2 separate regions of the Homo sapiens genome follow, and region 2 is linked to region 1. Evidence: fine-mapped expression QTL. A gene starts in region 1. The other region holds a variant in brackets. All regions are shown on one strand. Distances are between the middles of the regions. Region 1 holds the start of BIN2 (bridging integrator 2). Region 2 overlaps BIN2 (bridging integrator 2).

Evidence for each region. PIP is the estimated chance that this variant, and not a neighbour inherited with it, causes the effect. A credible set is the group of variants that fine-mapping cannot tell apart.
Region 2: its variant is the best candidate, but not a certain one, in a credible set for the expression of BIN2 in whole blood (TOPMed, PIP 0.68).

Annotation. Positions count from the first base shown.
Region 1 is chr12:51,322,220-51,327,593 of GRCh38, forward strand. BIN2 (bridging integrator 2) reads right to left here and starts at 1,955. Exons shown (of 13, transcript NM_016293.4): 1 at 1,803-1,955. The coding sequence starts at 1,883. It overlaps LOC105369767 (a long non-coding RNA gene), which reads right to left and starts at 1,789. Exons shown (of 2, transcript XR_944957.3): 1 at 1,509-1,789; 2 at 149-984. RefSeq lists an enhancer at 1,481-1,670 and silencers at 1,701-2,190, 4,886-5,180.
Region 2 is chr12:51,279,990-51,285,363 of GRCh38, forward strand. It overlaps BIN2 (bridging integrator 2), which reads right to left. Exons shown (of 13, transcript NM_016293.4): 12 at 4,727-4,798; 13 at 1,049-1,539. The coding sequence ends at 1,510. Among named protein-coding and RNA genes, the nearest start is that of SMAGP, 12 kb to the left of the region's middle. The variant T/C (reference allele first, on the strand shown) is at 2,543.

The DNA of each region.
Region 1 (5,374 bases):
CTCATTTTACAGGTGCAAGATCTGAAGCCCAGAGCAGGACATTATTTAGCCAAGGTTTGGAGTCTATGCTTACAAAGGAGTGAAAGCCCAAAGCAAGGTTTTAGTGTTGACGAGAGGCTAGATGAAGACAGAAGATGCAAGAGTGAAATACAATCAATTGTATGTCTTTTATTTTTATGTATTTATTTTTATTTTTTGAGACAGAGTCTCCCTCTGCTTGAGTGTGGTGTGGTGTGATCACTGCTCACTGCAGTCTTGATCTCCTGGGCTCAAGCAGTCCTCCCACCTTGGCCTCCCAAAGTGCTGGGATTACAGGAGTGAGCCACTGTGCCTGGCTGGTATGTCTTTTTAAAATTACTATCATTCATGAGTGTTTTGTCTTTTAGGGTTTTTTTTTTTTTCAACCACAGTGTGGCCTTCTCTCCAGTACCTCCTGCTCGCCCACACTGTTTCGAGCTAGACCTTCCCATAGGCCCTGCTCTCGGGTCTACCAGATTTGTAAGTCTTCAGAGAGGCTGAAACTAGGATCAAGGTGAAGTTAGGGTAAGTGAAGTAACGAAGTCTGGCTACACGAACTCTTTCCCTTTTCCTCCTCTCTTTCACATGACCTCAAATGATAGAAAATAACCTCCCTTCCATTGTGGTCTCTTAAAGTCAGGAGCTACATCTACATTCCATCAGTTTTCTGCTGATAAATCAACTCGGGAGAGCTGGTTGCCTTTAAGCCTTCCCAGGGCTCAAAGCAGTGCTCCACTTTTAGAAGATAATAGGGATATTTCAGTTGGTAAGCAGAGCTGTTCATCCAAATGCTTCTAAGTCCATCAGCTCTTAGAAAACCAAAACTTCTCCGTTGTAGAAGGCAGGTTGGGCTTAATAAAGAGAGAGAGAAAAAAAGGAAAACCGAAACTCTATCTCAGGTCCTTCTTGTCTTTCTTCCCTCGCTCTTTCTTCTGGCTGACATGTCTTCCCAAACCGCCTTGTCTACTAGAGGGTTGGTAGGTGGAGAGCAGAGGCTCAGGTTAGAAGCAAAGAAAATATTCTGTACAGGTAGAAACAAAAATGCCATCAAAATGTGTAGAGAATGTCCCCACAATTTAGATTGCCAAGCAAGTAATAGATGGGCAGCCCACCTAAGTGCCAGTGCTGGAGCAGGGCTACCTGACACTAACCAAGGACACACTCTGAACACAGATGTGGTTCATCACCCTGGGAGGTGTACTCCCCAACGCCAAAGGGAGGGTAGAAGAAGCAGATTTGGGCTCCTGCTTACGTCAGCTGAAACACCACCCAGAGGCCAGGCAGGGTCAGGTAGGGGGAGAACTATGCAGGATTATTCTAAGCCTTTGGTGGGGGGTGCCTGCTGGCATCCGCTGCATCGCTGTTTTTGGGGAAATTGCCCTCTATGGAAAATTACCCTCCAATTTCATCATCTGTAAAATACCAATTTTGGATTGCTAGCACAAAATTTGATACAAAGGTGGCCACCACCATCACTTCCTTTCTTTCACCTTTTCTGGGTCAGCCTGAGGGTTGTCGAAGGTTCTGCCCAGAGACTGTTGTCTCCCCAGCTTCCCTTATCCTTGCCCAAGATCGGGTGGCGGTCTCCGACCTCTCTCCAATCTGCCAGTTTTCATGGAAGCCCACTCCTCGCTCCCGTTTCCCTGGGAGAGCGGGAGACCCTTCTCGTCAGCCCAGACCCTTCGGGGCCCCTGAGCACCCTGCCCGCCCCTCCTGCCCGGCCGGGCTCGGCCTCGGCCTCGGCTCCCTGTGGGCCAGACAGACAGCGAGGCCCGGCCACCTACCTTCTCCTGGGCCCTGCTAAACTTCTTCTGCACCTGCTTGGCGAAGAGGCCGGCCGCGCCGCCTGCCTTGCCCTCTGCCATCCTGCCAACTCCCTGGGGGCCGCCGCCCTGGCCCCGCGCCCTGTGGTTTTCTGAGGCCCCCGAGGAGGAAGTGCGGGCTCCCGGCATGCCTCGCATCCGGCCCCAGCCCTGAGCCACCTCAGGCCGCCCCTGGCCAGCCCTGAGGCCCGCCCCTCAGCCCACCACTGTCAGCTGGAGCAGGCCGGCTCGGAGGGGCGGGCCCGGGGCCTACCCTCAGGCAGCGCTCGCTCGAGGCCAGCTTCCGAGCTCCAACCCCTGCCCGAAACCTCGGCCTCACTGAACCAGGTCCTCAGTGGTGGGCCCACACTCACTCGCTCCGGAAAGCCAGTTCCCATCACGCTGAGCACTGCAAAGCAACTGCCACCGCAGGGTAGAAAATGATGTGGGTTCCACTCAGCGAGAGGACCTACCATATCGAAAACACGTTTAGGTTCTCTGAGTATGCATGCGAAGCCGCCATGTACACTGCGTTTCTTGCTCCAGGTAGGCTCTAAGCCTGGAACTGGTAGGGATAGAGTGCAGAAAGCAGGCAGGACACCCGAGCCGGGCTTGAAAGAGAGAAACAGGCCGGGCGCGGTGGCTCACGCCTGTAATCCTAGCACTTTGGGAGGCCGAGGCGGGTGGATCGCCTGAGGTTAGGAGATCAGCCTGACCAATACGGTGAAACCGCGTCGCTACTAAAAATACAAAAATTAGCTGGGTGTGGTGGCGCACGCCTGCAGTCCCAGCTACTCGAGAGGATGACGCAGGAGAATTGTTTGAACCCGGGAGGCAGAGGTTGCAGTGAGCCGAAATCGCGCCACTGCATTCCAGCCTGGGCGACAGAGCGACAGTTCGTCTCAAATAAATAAATAAATAAATAAATAAATAAATAAATAAATGAGGAACAACTAAGCTGGAGATAGAAACAGGGTAGGGGGCTGGTTCTTAGGCAAGAGAATGATCACATTGAAAAAAGGCTGAGGAGGATAGTATGGACGCCCGTGCTGAGCATGAGGAGCAAGTTTTTCTAGTTGGAGTACAGTGTACTGGATGGAGGCAGAATGTGAACACAGACACAGATTGTGCAAATTGGGGTGCGGCTGTTGAGATGACAACTATTGTTTCTTTAGGGAGAAGTTCTCCAAAAAATTCCTCCCTGACCTGTTTGAGGGGATAGCTTGAGATTAGGACACTAGGTGTGGAGGAACCACGTACTCAGATTTTACAGTGCAGGTTAAAATTTCCTCAAGGCAGGGAAGAAGGTCAAAATAACACTTCCTAAGGAGTGGAGGGGGAAGATAGGGCCTGACACAAAATTAGAGGCCCTTGTATGCTACTGTGTTCCTCTTCTTTCTCCAAAACAATCATTACTGCACTCAAGGTCAACTGTGTACCAGGCATTGCTGGGTGTTCTGAAACAAGGATGAATAAAATGCAGTCCCTGACCTTAAGATGCTTAATGAAGTCTGGCCGGGCACCACGGCTCACACCTGTAATCCCAACACTTTAGGAGGCTGAGGCAGGCAGATTGCTTGAGCCCAGGAGTTTGAGACTAGCCTGCGCAACATAGCAAGACCTTCTCTCTGCTAAAAATACAAAAATTAATTGGGCGTGGTGGCACACACCTGTAGTCCCAGCTATCAGGGAGGCTGAGGTGGGAGGATCACCCGAGCCAAGGGAGGTGGAGGCTGCAGTGAGCCCTGATGGTGCCACTGCATTCCAGCCTGGGCAAAGCGTGAGGCCCTTTCTCAACCAATAAAGAATAAGTATTAATAAATAAGTACATAAATAAAGATGCTTAAAGTCTGGAAGTGGAGATAGGTGGGTAATCAGGTGATTCTAATGTAATGTGCTTAATTTATTTGTAGAGATGGATACAAAATTTTCTGGGAATAGGTGATTAGGGTTTGTTTGTTTGTTTGTTTGTTTGGAGACAGGGTCTTGCTTTGTTGCCAGGCTGGAGTGCAGCAGTGCCATCAGGGCTCACTGCAGCCTCTACCTCCCAGGCCCAAGTGATGGTCTCACCTCAGCCTCCTGAGTAGCTGGGACTAAGGTGCGTGCATGCCACCACTCCTGGCTACCCAGGCTGATCTGGAACTCTTGAGCTCAAGCAATCCACCCGCCTCAGCCTCCCAAAGGGCTGGGATTACAGGTGTGAACCACCTTGCCCTGCCAGGCGATTAGGGTTTATTCTGGATGTTAGCTTTGGTGATGCCCTGGAAGAGGCAGGGTGATGAAAATAGAAGGACTTGATATTGGATGGGGAGAAGTGGGGAGAAGCATGGAGAATAGCAGTACTGCGGGAACACTGAGAGTAGATGGCAATGCTAACAGGTGTGTCACTGGCAGAAGGAGGCCAGTACCTGTGTCCCTGCCAGGACTACATGGCATCCTCAGCAATGCAACCCAGCCACTGTCTCCTAAGAAACTCTGTTTAGTGCCAATATCTTGCAAACTGAAATTGATGGTCACCAAATCATGTAGTGTTAGAGAAGAAACAACCCTTAGAAGTTAATTAGATAGGGAAATTGAGTCACAGAAAGGGCTGATGACTTGACCACAGCCACCCAGCTCCTCAGTGGTGGAACTGGGATGGGAACAGACTCAGCCTCTTATAGCACATGGAGTGTTCTAGAGGCCTCTGCTGAGCCTGTCAATTCCAGGGTCTGTCTCAGCCAGTTTCTCCTTCTGTAATGTTTAATACCCTAGTCCCTCTTGTCTGGTCTTAAGTGATTGACATGAAAAGCTGCTTCTCATCCTTTTTAGCCTTCCCCTTTCAGTTCCCCCTTTGCTTTCTCATAGGCCACTCTAACAGACTGAGCCCTGGCCAGGATACAGCAGAATTATCAGTTTCCCAGTTCTCTGTGGTTTATAGAACCCTGGATCCGGTTGCCTAATTTTAGTCCCAGCCTTAAAGTGCTGATTCACACTTAGCTTGAGGCCCTATGTTGTTGTTGCCTCTTCCTTTCTGTTCTGCCTCTTCCCCTCAACCCTTTCGTTTCTTTGTTTAGTATCTTCTCTTCTCTCCTTTTTTCTATTCTTAGCTCTCCAGTCTCCATTGTTGTTTTTTTTTTTTTTTGAGACAGAATCTCACTTCATTGCCCAGGCTGGAATGCAGTGGCGCAATCTTGGCTCACTGCGGCCTCCACCTCCCAGGCCCAAGCGATTTTCTCCAGTCTCCTTTCTAATTTGTCACTTTCTTAGTCTGCTGGTATCTGCCCTGCCTCCTAATCTTATACTTCTATCTCTGGTGTATCCTAGTAGTTGCCATCACCCAGAAACTTGGAGTGGGCGTTCGTTTTAGGCACTAAAGGGGGAAACAAAAGAAGGATGAACCCACAGTATACCTGGGAAAGACAGGGCACATTCAGTCACTCAGGAAGTTTTTTGTTTGTTTGTTTTGAGACGGAGTCTTGCTTTGTTGCCCAGGCTAGAGTGCAGTGGCACGATCTCAGCTCACTGCAACCTCCACCTCCTGGGTTCAAGTAGTTTTCCTGCCTCAGCCTCTT
Region 2 (5,374 bases), 42 kb before region 1:
ATCGTTGCTCCTTGCAGACTCAACCTCCCAGGCTGGAGTGACCCTCCCTCCTCAGCCTCCTAAGTGGCTGGGAGTATAGGTGCGCTCTACCGTGCCTGGCCTAGTTTTTAAATTTTTTGTAGAGATGGGGGTCTATGTTGCCTAGGCTGGTGTAAAACTCCTGGGCTCAGGTTATCCTCCCGCCTCAGCCTCCCAAAGTGCTGGGATTAAAGGTGTGAGCCACCACATCCAGCCCTTTAAAATTTTTTTTAAAAATAAGAGATAGAGGTCTCATCATCTTGCCCAGGCTAGTCTCCAACTCCTGGGCTCAAGCAGTCTTCCCCTGTTGGCCTCCCAAAAGAATCCAGGACTTCTGACTCCAAATTTCATGCCATTTCTAGGATAGGATTTTTTTTTTTTGAGACAGTTTCACTCTTGTTCCCCAGGCTGGAGTGCAATGGCACAATCTTGGCTCACTGCAACCTCCGCCTCCTGGGTTCAAACGATTCTCCCGCCTCAGCCTCCCGAGTTGCTGCGATTACAGGTATGCACCACCACGCCCGGCTGCTTTTGTATTTTTTTAGTAGAGACAGGGTTTCTCCATGTCGGTCAGGCTGGTCTCGAACTCCCAACCTCAGGCGATCCACCGGCCTCGGCCTCCCAAAGTGCTGGGATTATAGCTGTGAGCCACCGCACCCAGCCGATATGATTGTTATTATTATACTTTGTATCCTTTCAGTTTCATATCTTCCTCTCTTGTGCTCAGACCCTTACTCATACCAAGTACTAAATTGTAAACACCAGATATAGCTCTAAAATGTTATTACCCCTTTCCAAGTGTATCTGTTTATCAACCAAAGTGGGGAGTGGGGAGCACATGCAGGATTAAGGAGAAGAGTCTGTGGCCCTTGGTATCATAAAAGAATTACAGTCAGGAGTTAGGGTGAGCTGGGGGTCAGGGATGTGACTAAACCTTTCTGAACCTGGGGCAGAATCAATAACCATACCTAAGTGGAAAACAGTGTGCTGGGTTGCAACAATGCCCTTTGTCAAATAAACAATCCACAGATAGTCAGAATCAGACTTTATTTAACAATCTGAAAATGTGTTCTTCCGGCTTTAAGTCTTGCAAAATGGGTCGTAAGTCAAAGACAGATTTGTTCACTATCCTCTGAGTGTGTGTGGTTATGTCTCTGTATAGGCAAGTGTCTGTGTCTATAGATACTTTTGCTTTTTATAGTGATTAAAGCTCCACTTTAGTTAATGTATAAAGTCTTATTCTAATAATGCTAAAACCAGAATTAAATATTCCCTGAGTCTAATGTTCTCTTCTCCCCAGCCTGCCTCCCTCCATCCCTCCCGTAAGGCTGCTCCTCCGCCTCCATTAATGCCAGGTCTTTAGACAGCACCAGCATTCCTACTGAGAACCCAGGGATGGATGCTGGCTCTTATATCCCTCTGACCTATACCCTCTGGTTGAAGAGCTTCTCTGGCGAGGTTTGGGGCAGGAGGAGTCTTGGTAGTTTCTCTTCAGAGTTGTGGATTTTCACTTGTGGATACCTGGAAAGTAAACATGATTGTGTTAGGTGTTGACCTGCCTTCCCACCAACCACTTATGGAGGGGTTAAACTCAGTTTGCTTCTACTGAATTATACTTCATGTAATGCCACTGGCCTCTCTTGAGGGAGGCAATGTGAAACTGGTTGTTGGGATTATTGCAAGGACTTGTTGCAGATATTGTTCATTACATCATTCACAATATCTTTATGATGATTCACAGGAGAATTTCTTTTTTTTTCTTTTTGAGACATAGTCTTGCTCTGTCTCCCAGGCTGGAGTGTAGTGGCACAATCATAGCTAACTGTAGCCTTGAACTCCAGGGCTCAAGTATTCTCACCTCAGCCTCTGAGTAGCTAGGACTACAGGCGCACACAACCATGCCTGGCTAATTTATTAAAAAAAAAATTTGTTGCCTAGAATGGTCTTGAACTCCTGGGCTCAAGTGATCCTCCCACCTCAGCCTCCCAAAGTGCTGGGATTACAGGTGTGAGCCCCGGCACCTAGCCTCCTTAAGGAATGAGCATTGTGAATTGGGTTAACTGATCAGGTTTTTCTCTTCTTGGATTTTAGAAAGTCTGGAACCAATTTCATGGTCATCCTTAGTAAGCTTATTTTATAGAATGCATTTTTTATACTTGCCTAATTCATGGCTCCATTTTACATCACTATCCTGTCTCATATAATTCTGAGTTTTTCTGCTGTATGTTGTGTATATGTGTGTATGTTAATATAATAAACATATATATATGCAGTTCACATGCTGCATAATGACATTTTGATCAACAATGGACTCTATATACAAAGGTGGTCCCATAACATTTTAATGGAGCTGAAAAATTTCTATTGCCTAGTGATGTGGCAGCTATTGTTAACATTGTAGCCTTTATAACATCACAGCACAACACATTACTCACATATTTGTGATGATGCTGGTATAAACAAACTTACAGTGCTGCCAGTTGTAAAAAGTATAGCACATGCAATTATGTACAGTACATAACAC[T/C]TGATAACAATAAACAACTATATTACTTGATGTATTTAATATACTATGCTTTTAAAAATATTTTTCTATATATATTATTTTTGAGACACAGTCTCACTCCATTGCCCAGGTTGGAGTGCAGTGGCACAATCCTGGCTCACTGCAGCTTCTTTGTCCCGGGTTCAAGTGATTCTCATGTTCTCATGCCACAGCCTTCCAAGTAGCTGGGATTACGGGTGCGTGCCACCATGCCCGGCTAATTTTTGTATTTTTAGTAGAGATGGAGTTTCACCATGTTGGTCAGGCTGGTCTTGAACTCCTGGTCTCAAGTGATCTGCCTGCCTCAGCCTCCCAAAGTGCTGGGATTACTGGCATGAACCACCACATCAGCCTACAATACTTTTTATTATTATTTTAGTGTGTTTCCTACTTATTAAAAAAAAAGTTCTGCTAATTGGCCAGGTGCGTTGGCTCACACCTGTAATCCCAGCATCCCAGCACTTTGGGAGGCTGAGGCGGGAGGATCATGAGGTCAGGAGTTCCAGATCAGCCTGACCAACATGGTGAAACCCTGTCTCTACCAAAAATACAAAAATTAGCCAGGCATGGTGGCGCCACCGCCTGTAATCCCAGCTACTCAGGAGGCTGAGGCAGGAGAATCGCTTGAACCCAGGAGGCGGAGGTTGCAGTGAGCCGAGATTGCACCACTGTACACTGTACTCCAGCCTGGGCGACCGAGAGAGACTCCATCTCAAAAAAAAAAAAAAAAAAAAGTTCTGCTTATTTAAAAAAAACATTAACTGTAAAACAGCCTCAAGTAGATCCTTCAGGAAGAGGCGTTGTTATTACCAGAGATGACAGGTCCATTTGTGGTAGTGCCCTGAAGACCTTCTAGTGGGACAAAATGTAAAGGTAGAAGACAGTGATATGGGTGATCCTGACCGTAGGCCAATGTGTATGTTTGCGTGTTTTTATTTACTTGTTTATAGACGGTGTCTAGCTATGTTGCCCAGGTTGTATTTGAACTCGTGGGCTCAAGTGATCCTCCTGCCTCAGCCTCCTGCATCGCTGGAACTACTACAGGCACATGCCACAACACACCCAGCTCTGTGTCTTAGTTTTTAACAAAAAAAGTTTTAAAAAGAAACAGAAAAAATACAGAATAAAGCTTACAGAATAAGGATATAAAGAAAATATTTTTTGGCCGGGTGTGGTGGCTCCCGCCTGTAACCCCAGCACTTTGGGAGGCCAAGGCAGGTGCATCATCTGAGGTCGGGAGTTTGAGACCAGCCTGACCAACATGGAGAAACCCCGTCTCTACTAAAAGTACAAAATTAGCTGGGCGTGGTGGCGCATGCCTGTAATCCCAGCTACTCAGGAGGCTGAGGCAGGAGAATTGCTTGAACCCAGAGGCCAAGGCTGCGGTGAGCCGAGATCATGCCATTGCACTCCAACCTGGGCAACAAGAGTGAAACTCCGTCTCAAAAAAAAAAAAAAGAAAAGAAAAATATTTTTTAATGGTGTAGCCTAAGTGTACAGTGTTTATAGTCTATAGGAGTGTAAGTAATGTCCTAGGCCTTCACATTCACTCACCACTCACTCACTGACTCACCCAGAGAAGCTTCCACTCCTGCAAGCTCCACTCATGATAGTGCCCTATACAAGTGTATCACTTTTTATTTTCTATATGCTATTTTTACTGTACTTTTCTATGTTTAGATACACAAATATTAACCACTGTGTCACAGCTGCCTACAGAATTCAGTAAAGTAACATGCTGTATAGGTTTGCAGCCTAGAAGCAATAGGCTATACCATACAGCCACACATAATGACAAAATCGTCTAATAATGCATTTCTCAGAGCATATCCTTGTTGTTGAGCAACACATTACTGTATAATATGACCTTTTTGCATTTAAAAAAAATATCTTAACCTCTTTAACTCCTTTTTGAAATAATTTGAGATTTAATTAAATAAATACCTAGAAGATAGGGCCAGTTTAAGGTCAAGTATAGGAAAATGGGCACGGAGATACCACGAAGTCCCAGTTCATTCTTGTTTCCTCTGATTCCCACCTGCTTGACTGCCCTAAGGGTATGGTTCACTGCCGGATTCCCCTTGTAGCCTGTGGTGAAGATTCCAGCCTTTTCCCAAACCCCTGTCAATCTAATGCCCAATCTATTCTCTGTATATCTGGTCTTACCTCTTCTTGAGGTTCAGGTGCTGTGAGGTTGTTGTTTTCTGGTACCATGGAGACTTGAAGCTGGTCTTGGCCCTACAAAGAGAAGAGTTCTGCCAGTAAGAGGTGGCTCAACCTTTCCAGCCTCTCAGCATAGAAGTGTCTTCTGTGCCTTATACTTTACAAGGGTCTCAGTATTTGTACTATTACAAAGGGCAAAATACAGTGTTGTTTCACCAGAGCCTGAAGGCATCGGGAAAGGCTTTCATCCATCCTCTTTTACAGATGAATAAACTAAGATTCAAAGGGTAAAAAGACTTGCTGGGACAGGAAACCAGGTCTTTGAATTCCTGAGTTGTTTCCATGATCAAACACCATGTAATCTGTGTGACATGGTGTGGATGTGTATCTATAAGGGAGTGCGAGGTCTTAAAATTACTACCTGCCACTTTTAGATGAACCGTCCTCAAGAATGTACTGCAACTCTCACACTTAAGTGATCCTAATTCATGACACGCAGTTAGGAGAAGCAAGTGGTAAAATAATTTCTTTGGGAAAAATTTTAGGTTCTGAGATGGGAACCCAAGGTGTAGGAAGCCCAGTCTAGACCACGTGCAGGGGTGCACACCTGTAGTCCCAGCTCCTTGAGAGGCTGAGGCAGGAGGATCACTT